Linked DNA regions of Homo sapiens: regions 1 and 3 are each linked to region 2. Evidence: fine-mapped expression QTL. A gene starts in region 2. Each other region holds a variant in brackets. All regions are shown on one strand. Distances are between the middles of the regions.

The links.
Region 1: its variant is fine-mapped to the expression of USP36 in whole blood (TOPMed, PIP 0.93).
Region 3: its variant is fine-mapped to the expression of USP36 in monocytes after LPS (Fairfax 2014, PIP 0.95). The same link has a PIP of 0.9 or more in NK cells, monocytes and monocytes after interferon gamma.

The regions. Positions count from the first base shown.
Region 1 is chr17:78,785,198-78,792,506 of GRCh38, reverse strand. It overlaps a transcript of USP36 not described here. Among named protein-coding and RNA genes, the nearest start is that of CYTH1, 6.6 kb to the right of the region's middle. RefSeq lists an enhancer at 1,063-1,232 and a cis regulatory region at 7,030-7,309. The variant C/T (reference allele first, on the strand shown) is at 3,650.
Region 2 is chr17:78,836,820-78,844,128 of GRCh38, reverse strand. USP36 (ubiquitin specific peptidase 36) reads left to right here and starts at 3,315. Exons shown (of 21, transcript NM_001385174.1): 1 at 3,315-3,393; 2 at 5,379-5,542. It overlaps LOC124904067 (a long non-coding RNA gene), which reads right to left and starts at 3,015. Exons shown (of 2, transcript XR_007065923.1): 1 at 1-3,015. RefSeq lists silencers at 2,828-2,927, 3,388-3,907 and enhancers at 3,048-3,237, 4,832-5,346, 5,347-5,861.
Region 3 is chr17:78,800,162-78,806,276 of GRCh38, reverse strand. USP36 (ubiquitin specific peptidase 36) reads left to right here. Exons shown (of 21, transcript NM_001385174.1): 15 at 1-121; 16 at 2,299-2,892; 17 at 3,742-3,953. Among named protein-coding and RNA genes, the nearest start is that of CYTH1, 21 kb to the right of the region's middle. The variant A/G (reference allele first, on the strand shown) is at 2,499.

The DNA of each region.
Region 1 (7,309 bases), 52 kb after region 2:
CCACTGTTCTGATCTGATGCCTCCCAGAGGGGCTGGGTGGTTGGTGTGGGAGAGTGGGAAGGAACTGTAGTATAGGGGCTGTTCCCCATCCTCTGTGGGGACCTCTACTGGAGATGCTGGACGAGGTGCCCCCTCTGTGTATGCTGGCACCCCACCTGTGCCCTTGAGGCCAACTTCTTCCACCCTGGGGACCTTGCTCCATTAATTACCCTGTCTGCTCCCGTGTCTCACTCTTCCCTTAGGAACATGTTCAGGCATCTCCCATCCTAAAAAGCCTGTGTGTCCTTGTGTCCCCTCTCAGCTGCCCTCTCCTTTGGTTGACATTCATTTTGCTCTGTGTTGACTCTCTGTGGTTCTTAGTCTAGCTTCTGCCATCATCACTTCTCAGTGACCTAATTCCCACTCTTGCCACCGACTTCTTCCCAGGATTTGACACTGTTGACCTCCGCACCCTGGAGAGCTCCTCTAAGATGTGAGCCTGTTGCATTTGCTGCATACTCTAGATCAAGCCCAGAATCAACTGATCCAGTCAATACATCCCACTGAACAGCCGACCGATCCACCCTCTGTCAGGATCTCTACTGTAGACACTGAAAGAGGTGCCCCCTCAGTATAGGATCCTGGCCTCAAATAATCTTCTCGCCTTGGCCTCCCAAAGCATTGGGATTACAGGTGTGAGCCACTGTGCCTGGCCTCCAGGACAATCTTTTAAGGCAAGAAACCAGAATCTAATCATTCCCCAACATAAGGTTTCTCACTCCTGTTCAGAGAAAATAGTCTCCTCTATTTTGTGATCCAGATCCCCCCTGCCTCTTCAGCCTTCCACAGCCCCCTAGAGGCCTCTGGGCAGCTGTCCAGCCCGTTGTTCTGGGATCTCAGAAAGCACTCCAGGCATTGAGGAAATTGCCCTGTGAGAGGGGCCTGAGATTAAAAATGTGCTTGTTCTTAGCAGAATCTGTACCAAACTGTTGCTTCAAGTTGCTTTCTCAAGGGGAAACTGCTGTATATTTTTGCTGCTTTAAAGGGATTAAAGTAGGGTCAGGCTGGAGTCAGGTTTGAATCATGACTTCCTATAAAAAGAAGGCCAGGGCCGGGCACGGTGGCTCATGCCTGTAATCCCAGCACTTTGGGAGGCCTAGGCGGGGCGGATCACCTGAGGTCAGGACACAACATGGAGAAACCCCGTCTCTACTAAAAATACAAAATCAGCCGGGCATGGTGGTGCATGCCTGTAATCCCAGCTACTTGGGAGGGTGAGGCAGGAGAATCGCTTGAACCCGGGAGGTGGAGGTTGCGGTGAGCCGAGATCGCACCATTGCATTCCAGCCTGGGCAACAACAGCGAAACTCCAGCTAAAAAAAAAAAAAAAAAAAAAAAGAAGGCCAGATTGGGAATCAAGACCTGTGTTCTAAGGGGTCTGCCATGAGTTAGCATCATGAATTTGCTTTTCTCCTCTAAAATGCAAAGGTTAGATTCAAATTATCATGATTGTCAGCTGTCACTCTCACGATACATGTCTTGCATGCGTGTTTTCATTGGTTTTCTCCCTTACTGCTTCATTTAGGAGGGTGTTGATTAGAGGAAGCAACAGGACATGGCTGCCAAATATCCATTAGACATTGAGTGAGAAACAGGTCACAAGATTGCCACTCCCTTAAGCAGGATCTAGGTATTTAGGTAGCTTCTTACCATCATGAGACCAGATTTCAACACACAGTCTAAGTACATGGCAAATACTTGCTGCGAAATGTGTGTAGGAAATTCAAGTTCTTTTACATAAACCAGTGATTTTTTTAAGGCCATTTTAAAATGAATGTGTTGGCCGGGCGCAGTGGCTCATGCTTGTAATTCCAGCACTTCAGGAGGCTGAGATGAGAGGATTGCTTGAGCCCAAGATGTCGAGACCAGCCAAAAAAGGCCAGGCATGGTGGCTTGTACCTGTAGTCCCAGCTCTTTGGGAGGCCACGGCAGACAGATCACAAGGTCAGGAGTTCAAAACCAGCCTGGCTAACATAGTGAAACCCTGTCTCTACTAAAAATAAAAAAAAATTAGCCGGGCCTCGTGGCACACGCCTGTAGTCCCAGCTACTCGGGAGGCTGAGGCAGGAGAATCACTTGAACCCAGGAGGTGGAGGTTGCAGTGAGCTGAGACCGCGCCATTGTGCTCCAGCCTGGGTGACAGAGTGAGACTCTGTCTTTAAAAAAAAAGAAAAAGAAAAAGAAACCATATCTCCACTAAAAATACAAAAATTAGCCAGGCGTGGTGGTGGGTGCCTGTAATCCCAGCTATTCAGGGAGGCTGAGGCAGAGGAGTCACTTGAACCTGGAAAGCCGAGGTTGCAGTGAGCTGAGATCGCGCTATTGCACTCCAGCCTGGATGACAGAGCGAGACTTCGTCTCAAAAAAAAAAAAAAGGTATTATTCTGCCATTTTTCTGTCTTATGTGGCTACAGTTCTCTTGGCAAGGCCTAGCACTTACCAGCCACCCGGTAAATATTTGTTGAATGAGTGAACTGGAGCAGCTGCTGAAGGCAGCATACTTTGTGACTGCATTCGGACCCTGCTCAGAAAACAGCCAGCCCACCGTCCATCAAAGTCAGTGGCTCCGCAGTCCACACTGCACTAATTCCCCTTCACATTGCCTTCCCTGAGCCCTACCCGCACCCCCTTTGTTTTTCTGCGTAAGTGAAAACATTTTGGTGAAGTCTAGCAGGAACTAGAGCACTAGCTCCTCTATTTGAAGTGAACGCCCAAACCGTGGCACGTGGCCAGCTGTCTTTTGGGTGGCACAGGGAACAGTTGGTGACAGCTGGATACAATCAAGTTCCATTACAAACAGATTTTAAGTGTCATTTACACACAGAAGAAATTGCAAGCTTTAGCAAAATAAAATCTGGGGGTTTTCAAAGCAAGACAATGCCCCAATCCAAGCCTGTGTGAGCAGTTCGCTTTGCAGCCTCTTGCGGGGATTAACACCCCTTCTTCACCAGGCTCCACCCTCTCTGCAAGGTCTATGCTGCAAAATTAGCAAGTCCAGGAGGCTTGCTCCCTGGCAGAGCTGCTGAGTCCTCTGTCTTCTATTTATTCACTTTTTGAAGAACCCTGAATTAAAGGCCTGTCTAACCACTGTTCAGCCTACTCCTTCTGGGTGGGAGGGGTCAGAGGCTGGCTTCTAGAAAAGCTGCTACCTCTAGATCATACCTTTCGCTTGGTCTCAGGGCGTACAAATCACTCACACAGTGATTGGGCAAGTGAAGGCTGGCATGCCCAGCTAAACCTCATCTCCTTTTTTTTTTTTTTTTTTTTTTTGGGACCAAGTTTCTCTCTTGTTGCCCAGGCTGGGGTGCAATGGCGCAATCTCGACTCACTGCAACCTCTGCCTCCCAGGTTCAAGTGATTCTTCTGCCTCAGCCTCCCAAGTTGCTGGGACTACAGGTGCATGCCATCACGCCCGGCTAATTTTCATATTTTAATAGAGACGGAGTTTCACCATATAGGCCAGGCTGGTCTCGAACTCCTGACCTCGTGATCTGCCTGCCTCAGCCTCCCAAAGTGCTGGGATTACAGGCGTGAGTCACCGCACCTGGCCTCATCTCTCTTTCGTGAAGCCAGCATTGTCCCCAGACATCTCAGTCCTCAGTGTCCCTCC[C/T]GTCCCCACCTCTGGCAAGAGGCAGCATTCTGGCCTTGGTGGAGGGGAATGACATCAGGCAGTGGCTGACAATTCTCCCCTTGGTGGAGGGGAGGCCGTAGATGATGTCCTGGTGTCTGGTGTTCTGATGGCCTCAGCAATACCTACCCCATGGACCCGAGTCCCTCCACATCTCGTCCTTGGCCCTTCCTTCCTTCATGCCTTCTAGCAGATGCGGGTGGGCTGTCTGTTGTTCCTGTAGCACACAGGGTCAGGGTGGGCATCAGTCCTGCCTTTCTTCTGAGACCCTCCAGCTTGCACCTTCTGGAAGCTGGGCACCCCCACTGCCCCACCAACCAGCTGGGAGAACATAAAGGTAACGAAATAGAATTACTTGTTTTAGAAAAAGGAACCAGGGCCGGGTGCGGTGGCTCACGCCTGTAATCCCAGCACTTTGGGAGGCCGAGGCAGGCAGATCACGAGGTCAAGAGATTGAGACCATCCTGGCCAACATGGTGAAACCCTGTCTCTACTAAAAATACAAAAATCAGCTGGGCGTGGTGGCGCATACCTGTAGTCCCAGCTACTTGGGAGGCTGAGGCAGGAGAATTGCTTGAACCTGGGAGGCGGAGGTTGCAGTGAGCCGAGATTGCACCACTGCGCTCCAGCCTGGCGACAGAGTGAGGCTCTGTCTCAAAAAAAAAAATAAATAAATAAAATAACCTATGCATATGCAATTTTAAACACAACTTGCAGAGCTTCATGTACTCGCTTCCTGAGGCTGCCATAACAAAGGACTACAAACTGGGTGGCTTAAGACAATGGGAATGTTCTCTCACAGTGCCAGAGAGAGACCAGAGTCTGGAATCAAGGTGTCCTCAGGGCTGTGGGGGAGAATCCAGCCTCTCCCAGGAATTCCTTGGCTTGTGGCCACATCACTCCACTGTGCTTCCATCTTCACGTAGCCATCTTTCCGTTCTGTGTCCAAATCTCCCTCTTTTTGTAAGGACACAAGTCCTGTTTGATTAGGTCCCACCCTAATGATCTCATGTTAACTTGATTACATCTGCAAAGACCCCACTTCCAAATAAGGTCACCATTCACAGGTACTGGGGCTTAGGACTTCAACATATCTTTTGTTGGGACATGACTCAACCCATAACAGTATGGAAAGGTTCTCTTCTCAGAGTTAAATGTGGCTCCCAATCTCTACCTCACAGATGATCAAGCGGTGCTGATTCACGAGAGTGGAAGCCTCCAGAGCTTGGGGCTTTCTGGCTGCTCTTCATTGACCTGTGTGTTCCCAGCACACGAACAGTGCCCCTAACGGAGATTTGTTCAGCGACTGAATATACACCTGTAAACGAGTAGCATGTATACATTGATTTTGATTACAAATGGTTCTGTATTATATACCACCGTTCTGACTGCTTTTTTCACTTATAGCTTGGAAATTGTCTTCTGTTGGTAATACAGAAATCTGTTTCAGTCTTTTGAAGCCTGTGGGTGCTTCCTTGTATGAAAGTATCCTAATATAGTTAACCTGTTTGCTATTGATAAACTTTGAGGTGGTTCCTGAAGACATTTTAAAACCATGGTATAGGGCCGGGCATGGTGACTCACGCCTGTAATCCCAGCACTTTGGGAGGCTGAGGTGGGTAGATCACCTGAGGTCAGGAGTTCAAGACCAGCCTGGGCAACATGGTGAAACCCCGTCTCTACTAAAAATACAAAAATTAGCAGGGCGTGGTAGCGCGTGCGTGTAATCCCAGCTACTCGGGAGGCCGAGACATGAGAATCGCTTGAACCTGGGAGGCAGAGGTTGCAGTGAGCCTGAGATCATGCACCACTGCACTCCAGCCTGAGCAACAGAGCGAGACTCAGTCTCAAAAAATAAATAAATAAATAAAATAAAACCATGGTATAAGCATAGGAAAAACATATTTTGGGTTACCTCTGCTTAAAACCTTTCTAATTCTTTTTATTAGGCAAAGCAGGGAAGCTGAAGGGGGAATGTTTCGGGAAAAACTCTCAAACTATGGTCTGCTCTCACCTCACAACAATCTTCACAGAAGACTGCTCTGCCCAGAGGCGTGGGGGTTTATCCCCACACACCAAGCAGCAGACACTACCTGGGGGTCCTCTCATCCAGTCCAACTTGGACTCTTATCTGGAGTGAGGTCAGATCTCACAGGCTGAGGGCTCAGTCCCCAAGACTGCATTTGTGACAGCAGTCACAAGCCTGGGCCTCTGGAAGTTCTGAGCGACCACCTTAAACTTGGGATTTCTATGACCCCCGCTCTTTGGGTTTGATTAATTTGTTGGAGCCACTCACAGAACTTAGGGAAACACTTACATTTAGTATTTTGTTTGTTTTTAATTTTTTTGAGACGAAGTCTCGCTCTTGTCCCCCAGTGTGATGGCGCGATCTCAGCTCACTGCAACCTCCACCTCCCGGGTTCAAGCGATTCTCCTGCCTCAGCCCCCCGAGTAGCTGGGATTACAGGCACCCGCCACCAAGCCCGGCTAATTTTGGTATTTTTAGTAGAGACGGGGTTTCACTATGTTGGCCAGGCTGGTCTCGAACTCCTGACCTCAGGTGATACAACAGCCTCCCAAAGTGCTGGGATTATAGGCATGAGCCACCACGCCTGGCCATTTAGTGGTTTATTATAAAGGATATTGCAAAGGATAAAGATGAAGAGATGGGGAAGGGCCCTTGCACAGAGCTTCCAAGCCCTCCCTAGGCATCACCCTCCAGGAACCTCCACATGTTCAGCTATCCTAGCCCAGTCTTTTTTTTTTTTTTTTTTTAATGGAAATTTTTATGGAAGCTTCCTTCCATAGGGCACAGGGCAGGACCCTCTCTGGGGAGGGTCTTAAGACCCACAATCAGAAAGGTGGGCAAGATTAAAGTCCTGCCTTGGGGCAGGTGAAAGAACAAGAGAAGGCCAGAGAGATTGTTTCCTGAGGCCTAAACCAACATTATAACAAAAGACTGTAACAAGAGCTAAGGGAGGTATGTGCCAGGAACAGTGGAAAATACCAGAGGGTGGCCAGGAGCAGGCTCATGCCTGTAATCCTAGCACTTTGGGAGACTAAGGTGGGTGGATCACTTGAGCCCAGGATTTCACAACCAGCCTGGACAACATGGAAAGACCCTGTCTCTAAAATAAATAAATAAATAAAATATTAGCTGGGTGTGGTGGCGTGCAACTGTAGTCCCAGCTACTTGGGAGGCTGAAGTGGGAAGATCGATGGAGTCTGGGAGGTGGAGTCTGCAGTGAGCCATGAGCCACTGCACTCCAGCCTGGCCAACAGAGTGAGACCCTGTCTCAAAAACAAAACCAAACCAAAAACTGTCAAATACCGCAGGGAGCTACCAACTTAAAAAAATTAGTTGTCAAGTGGATCAACCACTAAGGACTTAGAAACCACAGCGAAACTTGCAGAGAGCCCACACCCAGTTTAAAGGTTCTGTGAAGAATTAGTGGATGTGGGGGAAGAGGTCTGGGTTAGAATCCACAGCTGGAGTGGAGTCCTGTGGTTCCTGTCTCCCTGCCGCCGGCTCCTTCTCATTACGCTCCAAGGGCTGGGGGCACAAATACAAGATACGAGAGTGAAACTGACTTAACTCCTGCTTGCAAGTAGGCTGCATTTGGATGTCTATTAGCCTCGGCT
Region 2 (7,309 bases):
GATGGGGTAGAGGTATTAAACTAATTTAGTTTACCAAAATGAAACAAGAGAAAAGGCCGGGAGGTGGGGTGCGGTGGCTCACGCCTGTAATCCTTGCACTCTGGGAGGCTGAGGGGGGCAGATCACCTGAGGCCAAGAGTTCAAGACCAAACATGGCGAAACCCCATCTCTACTAAAAATACAAAAATCAGCTGGGTGTGGTGGCGTGCACCTGTGATCCCAGCTACTCTGGAGGCCGAGACACGATAATCGCTTGAACCCGGGAGGCGGAGCTTGCAGTGAGCTGAGATTGCACCACTGCACTCCAGCCTGGGCGACAGAGTGAGACTCCACCTCAGAAAAATAAAAAACAAGAGAAAACTACAAAATACGTATCCTGACTTGTGCCAAAGCATCTCGGAGCAGCTGCTGCTCTTGCTAGTGCCCTCTGTGGTCCCAACTCCTGGCCGCCACCTGCCCGGGCCTGGGCTGCCGCCTTGCACAGCCATTCTCCTGGCACGGTCAGATGTCTGAGAGTCAACACCATTTAGGAAGGATGACTTTCTCCACCCCTTCTGAGACTAGAAACAAAATGGAAGGGTCATAAGAATGGTGCCAAGCAGCCAAAAGAGCCACTTCCTTTGGGTACCAACAGGTGGCGTGGCGTCATGGCTCCTGTCTTCCCCAAGTGCCTGTGCCCAGCAGCTGCCTCTGCCTGTGCATCTTCTAGGGCGATGCTAATGGCAGATTTCCTGAGAGCCCTGTCCCATCTGCATGGATGGGAAGGACGACATACATTGCTGTTCTTCCTAAGGAAAGTGGCATCCCTCCCAAACCTGGGAACTCGGGTCTCCATGGACCGCACAGACACCTGAGAAAAGGTTTTGCATCAGAGGCTGATGGCAGAGGCTCTACCAGTCCAGCAAGTCACCTGACTGATGTGAAGGGTTCCCCTAGAGCAGGAGGGACATCTGGGCTGAAAACCCTCATGTGAAAAGGCCTGGGCCCCCCAGGCACTCGGCACCTATGAAATGCAACCCCAGCGGGTGGAAAAGCAAGTCCACGATTGCACTCCCCTGCCAGGCTAGGGAGAAATTCTGCTATTGCAGTTCAGGGGCAACACACCCACCCCCGCAGACCTGAGGGTGGCTGCAACTGTCAGCCACACCCAAAGAATGCAGGGCAGGCTCACTGTGGATAAATGTTTATGAAAGAACCACATGGAAATTGAAATATTTGAGATGAGACTGAATGATCTCTAAATCCTAAAAGAGAAAACTAGAGAAACATTAAAGATGAAAGAATAAAATATTCTGTTATAGAAAGCTGTAACCAAAACGGATCACATTAGAACTTACCTCAAGAAAAAGGTGCATTAACAGAATAGTTGTATTGTCACCCAAAAATTACCTGGTCCGCTCCCTGCCTGGGAGGTCAAGGTAAGATGGACTCAATTCCTCTCCTGGTTTCACAGCCTGTAGAAGATGGCTGAAGATTTGGGCTAATTTCGTGAGAGACCTACGTTGCATTTCTTTCTTTTTTTTTTTTTTAGACCAAGTATTGCTCTGTTGTCCAGGCTGCTGGAGTGCAATGGCACGATCTCAGCTCATTGCAACCTCCACCTCCCAGGTACAAGCGATTCTCCTGTCTCAGCCTCCCTAGTAGCTCGGATTACAGGCGTGCGCCACCATACCCAGCTAATTTTTGTATTTTTAGTAGAGACAGGTTTTCACCATGTTGGCCAGGCTGGTCTGGAATTCCTGACCTCAAGCGATCTGCCTGCCTCGGCCTCCCAAAGTGCTAGGATTACAGGCGTGAGCCACTGTGCCCTGCCTTTTTTTCTTTTCTTTTCTTTTCTTTTGAGACGGAGTCTCGCTCTGTCGCCCAGGCTGGAGTGCAGTGGCGACATCTCAGCTCGCTGCAACCTCCGCCTCCTAGGTTCAAGGGATTCTCGTGCCTCAGCCTCCTGAGTAGCTGGGATTACAGGCGCCCACCACCACACCCAGCTAATTTTTGTATGTTTAGTAGAGACGGGGTTTCACCATGTTGGCCATGCTGGTCTCGAACTCCTGACCTCAGGTGATCCGCCCACCTTGGCCTCCAAGTGTTGGGATTACAAGGGTGAGCCACCGCGCCCAGCCCAAGGATTCTTACAGATAGGGCATAGTCTCAGCATCAGACTAATATGGTTATCTTGTTTGCTTTTTTCAAAAAACACCAGCGCCCAGGTAATAAATACAAGGTGAATTTTGTTCCAAGTACATCTAGCCTCTCTCCCCATCTCCAGTCCCTGCTTTAGGATCCGTGGGGAGGGCATGGAAATTCGTTTTGGGTTGTTTACCTGTGACTTCACCCTACTCATCATTCCTACTTACATCAAAAAAGACACAGCAGATACGACTGTGTTTGCAAAGTTCTGCCTTTTGGATAAAGTAGTTTATGCCCATCCTGTGCTTCTCTGAGTTTCTGAGGTCAGGCCAGGAACCAACACTCTCAACCTGCCCAAGGGAATGGGGAGGAAGCCAGCGAAGTTGCCTCAGATCAAGAGGATTTTTAAAAATACTGCAAAAGAAATACGTGCTCACAAATACTCAGCTAAAACCTTCGCAGAGCTGTCAGAGGACAAAGCTTTTGGAGGGAGTGGGTGGAGCTAGAGATTGCACAGCCGCCACCAGCCTACAAAGGTCAAATCTCACACTCTCAGATCCCTAATTCCGAAGAGCCATTTCCTCGGCAGCCCCAGGCTTTGGCCGATCGCTCCCAGATCCCTCCCTCCCCAAACTGCAGGTGCTCCGCGTGTGGGAGTCACGGATGGCCCCAGAGCCCGGGACGTTAAGGCCGAGCGCCCGCGCCTCCGCTTCTCCACAGCCACCTGACGGCCAGGGGCAGGTGGGGGAGCCCAGCCTTCTCCCTGCCCGGGAGACAGCGCGGGAGGGCTGTTGCAGGGGTGGGCAAAGTCCCTCGAGTCCCCGTTCTGGGGCGGGGGCGCGCGCCACTGTCACACTTCAGGCGTCCGCCACGCCGCCAGGTGTGCTCGGCCGACCCGGAAGTAGCGGCACCTCTAGTGCGCTGCGGAGACGTCACCCTGCCGCGGCACAGGGGCGGGAGCGCCTGTGGCTCTGCGCACTTGCGTCATCACGTAGGCTGGCGGGGTCCCGTGATGGGGAGGTGACGTAGGCGACACGGAAGCGGCGGTGGGCGGGGACAGGGAGTTAGCGGAATCTAGCCCCGCCTCTTAAAGCCTCCCAACCCTTTCGGAGTTAGCGCAGCGCGAACGCTGGGTGCGGCGCCTTTAAGCGTCGCGGTGACACGTGTGTGAGGCGCCGGAGGCCCGGATGGTGCGCGTGCTGGGCCGCGGGCCGAAGGAGTCGCCAGGGCTGCGTAGGCTTGTGGCGCGCCCGCGGAGAGGCCGGGGTAGGCTGGGGTCGGGTCGGGGCGGTGCGCAGGCCTGGGGACGAGACCGGGGCGGGGGGTTCCGCGAGGCCTGGGGCGCGGGAAGGGCTGGCGGGCGCAGCCGGGACGCTCAGGGAGAACGTGGGCGCGGGTCCGCGCAGGGCTTCGGCCGTCCCCGAGGAGGACCCGGGATGCTCCGCCCGCTCGCGAGCTCGCTTCTCCAGAGCCCGGGTATTCCCGAGGAGGGTCCGGGGCCGGGCTGTCCTCGCCGGTCTCCGCCGTCCCCCGGGCTCCGGGCCGGTGATGGGGGTCGCCGGGGCCCGCTGTCTGTGCAGGATTCAGGTCAACTTCGGAGAGGTTGAAGTCGGAATCAGGGCGAGGGCGTCGCGTGCGGCCGCAGAGCTCAGCGGGGCGGGTGCGGCCCCGGGGCGGGCACCTTCCTCGTGGTTGCGGAGGAGGCCATGGAGCCCGGGGCGGGGTGCGGTTCCGATGCTGCTGCTTCTGGCGGGTGGCGTGGGGGTCCTGGGCCTGGGGCTGGAGTGGCGGCCGCCAAACCCAGACACACGAGAGGGGAGACTCCGCGCGCCCCCGTTTACGTAACGCTCGCCACGGAGCCATGCTCGGGGAGAGGTGCTCGGGTCGCTGTGTCCGCGGCCGGGCTCGGGGCAGGCGCTGCGGAGTCGCCCGGGAGGCCCCTGGAGCGCGGCGCTGGGCCCCGGGAGGCCGCTGCTTCCGTGGGCTCCTCTCCCCAGCACGTGGTTGACCCTGCGAGCGTCCGTTGCAGTTCATCCTGGAAAAGTGACTTTAGAAGGAGGAGGGAGCGGGAATGAGCCTAAATGGTGCTGGCTGGGGTTCGCGCAGGTGGAAATGTGGATGAGGCCTGTGCTGTCCTTGGACAAGAGAGAGCATCCTTCCTGAGTTGGGTAGAGTGTGGATGGTGTGTGCGTCGGAGGGATTGCTAGTGATTACAGGAACACTTGTCTCGGGCTCCTACACGTCAGAGAGCGAGCGAGCGTTGTTTAGGTTATTGCTTAATGTTTTAGGTGGAATTGGTGAAGTAGAGATTGACCTGTCCCACTTGAAAAATTGTGTTCAAAATCTCTGCATCTACATTAAGGAGTGGGTTAAGTTCAAAGTTACTTATCTCGAGTGAAACTGGGTTACATCTCCCAAGGTTCGTTTATCCCCTCCCTAAGTGGTTCTCAAGCGTTGGTTGTGCATGACAGAGTTCTCACCTTCCAGGGTAGATGTGAGTCCTAACCGAAAGCAGTGATATTGTGGGGAGTTTTTAATACGACTGGATGTCTTCACTTTGTAGATGGCTTTTATTCTGAGATCATTTCCTTACACATTTTTCGGGAGTTGGTATGCTTTTATTTATGGATGAAGTCATAGGTCTGAGATTTGCTGTAGAATTACCTGGGGATGGGAAGTGACTCAGGATGGGTCAGATGTAGTTACTGAGGCTGAATAAGGGGGGCTCATGTGCTCCCTGTGCGGTTCTCCATCTGTGTGTTTGAATGTTTTCACTGTAAACTGTTTTTACGAACCTTAATTTTATGTAATCATAGTGATCGTAGATGGTAATGAAAGAGAAAATCCACACTTAGCAAAGCAAAATTTTGGCAACTCCTATTACTCCCTGAGGTTTGTTGTTGTTGTTATTGAAGTTTTACTGGTTCATTAAATCCAAAACTTGGGGATTTATTACCTCTTACTCTTTGGAAATAAGATTAGACTGGAGCTGACTGGCAGGTGTTGGGGAGGTTTTCCTTCTCTGGGCTTGTCTGGGGTCAAGGTTAAGGTGTTCATATCGTGTGCATTACAACAACTGGTGATGAGGTAGTACGGTCCACCCGCCTCATCCTGAGTGCACGCGTGGATGCTCCTTGGACGGCTTTTTCGTGGTAGAGGGTTCCCGGTGCGCGCCGCATCCCTGGGAAGTAGCTGAAGAGAAGGCACAGGAAGAGTCGCCTCCACTGATGGTCTCCCTGTCCCTCCCACAGGCTCTGACGCCCGCTCTGCGGCTTCGGTGTTTGAACAGGCCACAGTCCAGGAGCGCTTACATTCAGGAGCTCCGCGTAGCACCTGCCCAACCAAACTCAGCCCTCCGTTAAGATCCTGGTTCCATGCCGCAGTAGGACAGCAGGCCCAAGTCTGCACATCCCAGGTGAGTCTGCGAGGCTTCTGTGTATTTTTTGATTCCGTTGAATTGTCTGCATGTGACGCAGCAGTGATTGTTCAGTTGGTGAGAAGTCTTTGATAATTCTCATGAGAAAAGGCTCTTTTATTTTCTCAAATCAGACAACTTATAATGCTTTTTTTTAAATAAGCTTCTGAAATTTCTTTACAGAAGTTTTTTGTTTTTTGTTTTTTTTTTTTTTTGAGACCAAGTCTTGCTCTGTTGCCCAGGCTGGAGTGCAGTGGCGCGATCTCGGCTCACTCCAACCTCTGCCTCCCGTGTTCAAGCAATTCTCTGCCTCAGCCTCCTGCGTAGCTGGGATTACAGGCGCCTGCCACCATGCCTGGCTAGTTTTTTTGTATTTTTAGTAGAGAAACATCTTCGCCAGGCTGGTCTTGAATTCCTGACCTCCTGATCCACCCGTCTCGGCCTCCCAAGTGCTGGGATTACAGGCGTGAGCCACGATTTTTTTTGTTTTAAAGATGGGGTCTCACGATGTTGCCCAGGCTGGACTGCACTGGCTATTCACAGGCGTAATCATAGCTCACTGCAGCCTCAGGCTCCTGCCCTCAAGTTATCCTCCCACCTCAGCCTCCCAAGCATCTGGGACGACAGGCCCAGGCCACTGCACCTGGCTTTTCTTTACAGAAGTTTTTGTAGAAAAAGATACTTGATCCATGTATAGAATTAGATGATCCACAGTGATAAATTTGAATGGCTTAATATGAGGTGCTGGAGGAAGTCCTTACTTTCACTAGAGCAGAATTTTGGGGCACACTTGACTTGTTGATTCTCTGAGGGCAGGCTGGGTACTGAATACCAGAGGAAGTCATCATTTTTCTGATGTGAGTGAGCAATTTAAGGGACATATTTTTGAAATTGTGACTCAGATAGTCTGTGCTGTGTTTGGGAAGGTTAAGTTGAGAGGTGGTGGGTAGGGGAGGGCAAGTGGTGGATACAAAGGTAGCGATTGGAGAGGTGCAGGGGTCTCTTCTTGGTTACAGTTTCCATGCAGCTGCACCAACAGTATCGATCCTCTGTTAGGGACTGTAGTATGTAGCAAGCTCTAAAGCACTTCCCAAGCCTATTATTTTTGTTGCTATTTTACAGTAGAATAGGGGGTTTGGAGAAGTCATAGTAGTTGTCCCTGGGTTTCATAGCTAAGGATGATAGAACCTCCCGGGGCCACCACATTCCAAAGCCTGTGATCTCCCCACTCTCCTGCTTGGCTTTTCTTCTTCTCTTTTGATAAGAGTCCTGGGAAGACATTTGTTTAAGTTTAGGTGTCTAATGGATACTAGTCTCTAGGCCTGCTACTTGCTTTTCTTCTCCTTCCTCACTTTTAAAAAGATAATTTGTACTCCAAGCACTGTGTAATGGAGATTAATACAAGCCACAAATATAATTTAAAATTTTATAGTAGCCACATTAAAAAGAAGCAGGTGAAATTCATTTTCATAATTTATTTAACTCAATATATATAAAATATTACCATTTCAACAGGTAACTGATCTAAAAATTACTGGGATGTTTTACATTCTCTTCTTATACTAGTGAGTATTTCTCTTCAAAATCTGGTGTGCATTTTACACTTATAGCACCTCTCAACCTGGACTAGCCTCATTTCACATGCTCAGTAGCCACGTGTGGCCTGTGGCCTTCATATTGAAGAGTGCAGGTCTGTACAGACATGCATGCTCATCTGACCTGCATGCTAATTCATTTATTGCGTGGGTGTGTGTGTGTGTGTCCGTT
Region 3 (6,115 bases), 37 kb after region 2:
TGTGGAGGGCGACCGGCAATGACCTCCGTCCACCTCCCCCCTCACCATCCTCCGACCTCACCCACCCCATGAAAACCTCTCACCCCGTCGTTGCCTCCACTTGGCCCGTCCATAGAGCCAGGTAAGCTTTGGGCCGGGATCTTCTGGGTGCCAACTGGTTCTCCCTGTGGTTGCGTGTGCTTGGCTGGTGAGGAGTTGGACGAATCGCCAACCTCACAGGACAGACAAAGCATTGGGGCAGCCAGGAGGTACAGGGGGGCGTCACTGACCAAGATCCCCCTCTTCTGTGTTCCCCTGTGGTAAAGGAGCTTTGGGTGGTGAAGGCAGTTCGGCCTCTGCAGTCCTGATGTCTTAGTTCTGTCTTTGTTGGTGGTCTGTCTGCGACATCCTTGTGGTGATGTGGTGTGCTGGGGACTGACCTGTCCTGTATCCCTACCAGCCCCATGACAGTACTTCCCAGTCGAAGAGAAAGGCGAAGTGAGGCCTTGGCGAGAGGCTTGAGTGAGCTCGGAGTCCCGAGCGTTTTTTGTGGGACGTCTTGCCTGCTAGCGTCATGCAGGTTAAGAACTGTCTCAGGGCTCTCGGGTTCCTCTGCAGACACCTGCCAGAGATGCAGCCCCTTCCCTGTGCATGTGGGCCCTGGTCCGCAGGGGCTGCCTGCGTCTCTTAGGTGCCTCGAGTGGCAGGAAGTTGAGAGTAACTGGTAAATGGCTGTCTGGAAGCCGCTGGGAGTGGGGACGGAAGCAGTGAAAGATGGGGTGAGTCATGAGGCGGCCTGCGGGGACTGTACTGGTGGCCTCGGCGCTGGGTTCTAGTTCTAGAATCTCCAGTGCTACATGAGGGCGAGGTATGACTGTGCGTCGCCCACAGCCTCTGCCTTACTCTCCTCTCACATATACACACACAAGCACACCTCTGCCCTATACCTAGCATAAGATTTGTGTACGTGGGAGGGCCTTAAGTGTTTGGGTGTTTTTCGTTTCTTGCCTTATAAGCTTTTTTGGAAAAGATTCCAGAAGACACTTAGAGTAATCAAACATCGTGCAGCTGGCATGGCCCTTATAGTTTGTTTAGATGATGACGGGGGTCCTGTTTTCTGCAGGAACCCTGGGAGGTGGGCTTTGTGGTCCCAGCTCATTGACAAATGAGAACATGGTGGTTCAGAGTGGGAAGTTAATTTTCCTAGAGACACATAGCTGGCAAGAGGGAGCCTCACTGGGTTCGGCACTAGATCCTGTCCCGGACACGCCTTGCTCATGATTCTGCTCTACGCATCTGTGTCCCGGTTTCAGCGTCCTAATGACGGTAATGTGGAGGTGTCATTAGGCCAGCTCAACACTTGCTTTCCTTATGAGGCTCATTTCCTGCCCGGGAACACCCTGAGACTTTCGGAGGTTGGAAAATAAATCCTCACGGGATCTTTTTTTTCCTTACCATTTATTGTTTCGTGAAGGTTTCCTCCCTTAACACATTTGTATTAAAGATGTTTTTACATTAGAGCTCGCAAAAATACTTGAATTGCTTGGTGACAAGAAACTAAGGCATGGAACAATTCTTATTAACTTTGCCTTTTAAAAAAAAAAAAATTTTTTTTTTGACTTTTAAAATCACGTGTTGGCTTGCTTTTTTTTTTTTTTTTTTTTTTTTTTTTAAATCTCAGGGATCAGTTATTTTAAGTTCCAGGGTACATGTGCAGGATGTAAAGGTTTGTTACAGAGGTGCCATGGTGGTTTGCTGCACCTATCAACCCACCACCTAGGTAACTTTGTTTTTTTTTTTTTGTTTTTGTTTTTGTTTTTTTGGTTTTTTTTTTTTTTGAGACGGAGTCTTGCTTTGTCGCCCAGGCTGGAGTGCAGTGGCGCGATTCGGCTCACTGCAACCTCCACCTCCCAGGTTCAAGCGATTCTCCTGCCTCAGTCTCCTGACTAGCTGAGATTACAGGCGTGTGCCACCACGCCCGGCTAATTTTGTATTTTTAGTAGAGATGGGGTTTCACCATGTTGGCTAGGCTGGTCTCAAACTTCTGACCTCAGGTGATCCAGCCACCTTGGCTTCCCAAAGTGCTGGAATTATAGGCATGAGCCACTGTACCTGGCCAACTTTGCATTTAAATAGATGTTGAATTAATTGTTAGCTTTCTTTCAAACATACATGTAACTTAATGTGTATCTGAAAACTACAGGGTAAAAGCCTTTTCAGATTTTTAGGTGAAAGGGAGGGGAGTGAGGGTAGACAGAAGGAACAGCTCTGCTGGGTCTTTCAGAACATCCTCTCCCTGTTTCCTGGCTGTCCCCACAGGGCTGTGTCACCTGCTCCCCAATCATCCAGCCGCCTGCAACCCCCCTTCAGCCCCCACCCCACATTGCTGTCCAGTACCCCCAAGCCCCCAGGGACGTCAGAACCACGGAGCTGCTCCTCCATCTCGACGGCGCTGCCTCAGGTCAACGAGGACCTTGTGTCTCTTCCACACCAGTTGCCAGAGGCCAGTGAGCCCCCCC[A/G]GAGCCCCTCTGAGAAGAGGAAAAAGACCTTTGTGGGAGAGCCGCAGAGGCTGGGCTCAGAGACGCGCCTCCCACAGCACATCAGGGAGGCCACTGCGGCTCCCCACGGGAAGAGGAAGAGGAAGAAGAAGAAGCGCCCGGAGGACACAGCTGCCAGCGCCCTGCAGGAGGGGCAGACACAGAGACAGCCTGGGAGCCCCATGTACAGGAGGGAGGGCCAGGCACAGCTGCCCGCTGTCAGACGGCAGGAAGATGGCACACAGCCACAGGTGAATGGCCAGCAGGTGGGATGTGTTACGGACGGCCACCACGCGAGCAGCAGGAAGCGGAGGAGGAAAGGAGCAGAAGGTCTTGGTGAAGAAGGCGGCCTGCACCAGGACCCACTTCGGCACAGGTAAGGGCAGGAGCAAAGTGGCATCTGTCTACCTCTGACGAGAAACAAAGCAAAACCACAGAATCTACCCCCAAGTAGGTATGGTCTGGAAACGTAGTCTGCTTGCGTGGTTTTCTAAAATGTGGATTTGTGATCAGATGTCTCCTCTGGCTGGGTGTGGTGGCTCACACCTGTAATCCTAGCACTTTGGGAGGCTGAGGCGGGTGGATCACTTCAACCCAGGAGTTTGAGACCAGCCTAGGCAATATGGAAAAGCCCTTTCTCTACCAAAAACAAAAATTGGTTGGGCATGGTGGCATGCACCTATAGTCCCAGCTACTCAGGAGGCTGAGGTGGGAGGATGGTTTGAGCCCAGGAGGTGGAGGTTGCAGTGAGCTGAGATCGCGTCACTGCACTACAGCCTGGGTGACAGCTAAACCCTGTCTAAAAAAAAAGAAAAAAGAAAAAATATCTCCTCTGATAAATACCAGTGGATTGATCCTTGAAGCGACAGTGGTGTGGACAGTAGTGTCCATCATTGTATGTGCAGGGCCGTTCAAGGATGCTGGATCAGGTGTCCCGGGCCAGGCCAGGATCTGCCGTTTCATCAGGTCACAGTAGCCTGCACATTGGCGTCAACAGGCTTGGCTCAGTTAGGATGGGAAACGCGACTGGTTTTCCCTCTACTGTCTCCGTGGCTGCGTGTGGAGCGTCCGCTAATGCGTGTGGGGGGAAGAATGTTGCAGGGACCTGCGTGCACTGGGTCACAGCTGGGGTGGCACCTTCTCCATGTTGCAGGCGGGTGTCTGTGCGCTCCTGCTCCCCTTCCAATTTGCTCAGAGCTGACTGCTGCCTCTCACTTCCAAGCAGCTGCTCTCCCATGGGTGATGGTGATCCAGAGGCCATGGAAGAGTCTCCAAGGAAAAAGAAAAAGAAAAAAAGAAAGCAGGAGACACAGCGGGCAGTAGAAGAGGATGGGCATCTCAAATGCCCAAGGAGTGCCAAGCCCCAAGATGCTGTTGTCCCCGAGTCCAGCAGCTGCGCACCATCCGCGAATGGCTGGTGTCCTGGGGACCGCATGGGTATGCACCGGGCGAGGGGGTGGGAACCGCATGGGTGTGCACCGGGCGAGGGGTTGGGGGACCGCATGGGTGTGCACCGGGCGAGGGGTTGGGGGACCGCATGGGCGTGCACTGGGCGAGGGGTTGGACCGCGTGGGTGTGCACCGGGCGAGGGGGTGGGGGACCGCGTGGGTGTGCACCAGGCGAGGGGTTGGGGGACCGCGTGGGTGTGCACCGGGCAAGGGGGTGGGGGACCGCGTGGGTGTGCACCGGGTGAGGGGGTATTGGGGAGTGCACAGGCTGAGAGCAGCGTCTACTGCATCTGAGCTTGGGAGGGTCTGGGAGAAGATGTGGAGGGCCCTGGGACCCTACCAACCTTCACCCCCCACCCCCGAGTCTGCTCCCTTGGGTGATGGGGTTGAAGCTTCCTCATGTGTCACAGCATTTGACTGAAACAGCCCCATGAGAGAGGTTACAGTGCACATGAACTTTAAAACATTCTGTGAATGCCAGTGGGTCTTCCGATTCAAAGCTGTTCTGTCTACAGCTTCTCACGGAATGACTCCCTGAACTCCCAGCCTGAGTTTTTTTCTGTGATGGTTGAATTTAGAAGAGTTGGGTTCAAAAGTGAATCCTCCTCTCCCTCTATGTAGCTGGGCCATTCAGAACATAGCACGGTTTGCTTGCTGTTGGGGACCTGTGTGCTGTGGCTGTCCTTGGGCACCACCCCTCAATCGGAGGGTGTTTTGTTTTCTTTAGGGCTGGCTGGGGCATGCCTTGGCAGGCACCCGCCACAGAACACATTTGTTAAGTGAAGGGGAGAGAAAGTCCTGGCTGCTTGGTATAGGGGGCCGAGCTTGAGTGAGGCCTCCTCTGCAGTCTGGAAGGTCTGATTATGGCAGTGCATCTGGGGGTCAGCAGGACCTTAGAGACTGATTTGTATTTATCCAACTCTTAAGAAAGGAATTTATCGTTAAAAATGAAATGGTATGAAATAAATAGCAAAACGTGGGTGCTAGCTAGTGCCGACTGAGTTTGCTGGCCAGCATGCTCTCAGAAGTACTGCCCTGGCCGGGGGTGGTGGCTCACGCCTGTAATCCCAACACTTTGGGAGGCCGAGGCGGGCGGATCACAAGGTTAGGAGATCGAGACCATCCTGGCTGACACGGTGAAACCCCGTCTCTACTAAAAATACAAAAAGTTAGCCAGGCATGGTGGCGGGCGCCTCTAGTCCCAGCTACTCGGGAGGCTGAGGCAGGAGAATGGTGTGAACCCAGGAGGCGGAGCTTGCAGTGAGCCGAGATTGCGCCACTGCACTCCAGCCTGGGTGACAGAGTGAGACTCCGTCTCAAAAAAAAAAAAAAAAAAAAAAAAATACTGCCCTAACATGGCACCAGAGCTGTGCTCCGTGCCACCCTCGGAGCGAAGTGGAGTTGGCTTGTTAGTGCAAGGGACATCACTTGAGCACTTGCGGTGCGCCAGGGTCCATGCCAGGTGCTGGTTGTGTCTACTGAAGTGCGCCCTGGGCCCTCGGGGCTCCCTGGCAGAGCCAGAACCACACAGTAAGGGCTCATGCTCAGCAAGGAGGCGCTGGGGGCCGCATGGGCTCTTGCAGTCCTGTGCACCTGAGGAGAGTGGCTAAATGGGCAGGGCACCAGACCCAAGGGCAGGAGGCGCAGCACGTTGGGAGCAGGCAGGCTGCTCTGCATGGCCGGGTCCCTGGGCTGTGTGGATGAGATGGGAACCATGGAAGCCACTGTGTGGGGGCAGGGGACACTTAGCCTGGAGCTCACTGAGGAATTGGAGGCAGGGAGAAATGAGGTCAGATTTGTGTGAAGGGAGGTGAGTATATTCCAGGGGCTATGTGGCTAGCTGGGCAGAGGACGAGTTCAGAAAGGGTTTCTAGAACCCGATGAGGGTGGTGAGTGCTGTCCTGGTCCCGAGGTGCTGGGTGGACCTGTGCGGTGTTGCTGATGGGGACCAGGTTCCCCCTGGACAGGGCTTAGGAGGTCGGGCCCCTGATGGCAGCAGCCAAGCTTGGCCGTTCCCTCCACCCCTGTGGCCATCCAGGTGTCAGGCTGGTCCTGGGGCATGGGCCTCTCCCGTAGGTGAGGTGGATTCCATTTAGATCTAGTTCTCTTCTCTCCTTCTGTCAGACTGAGGACTTAACACTACTGGTTAAA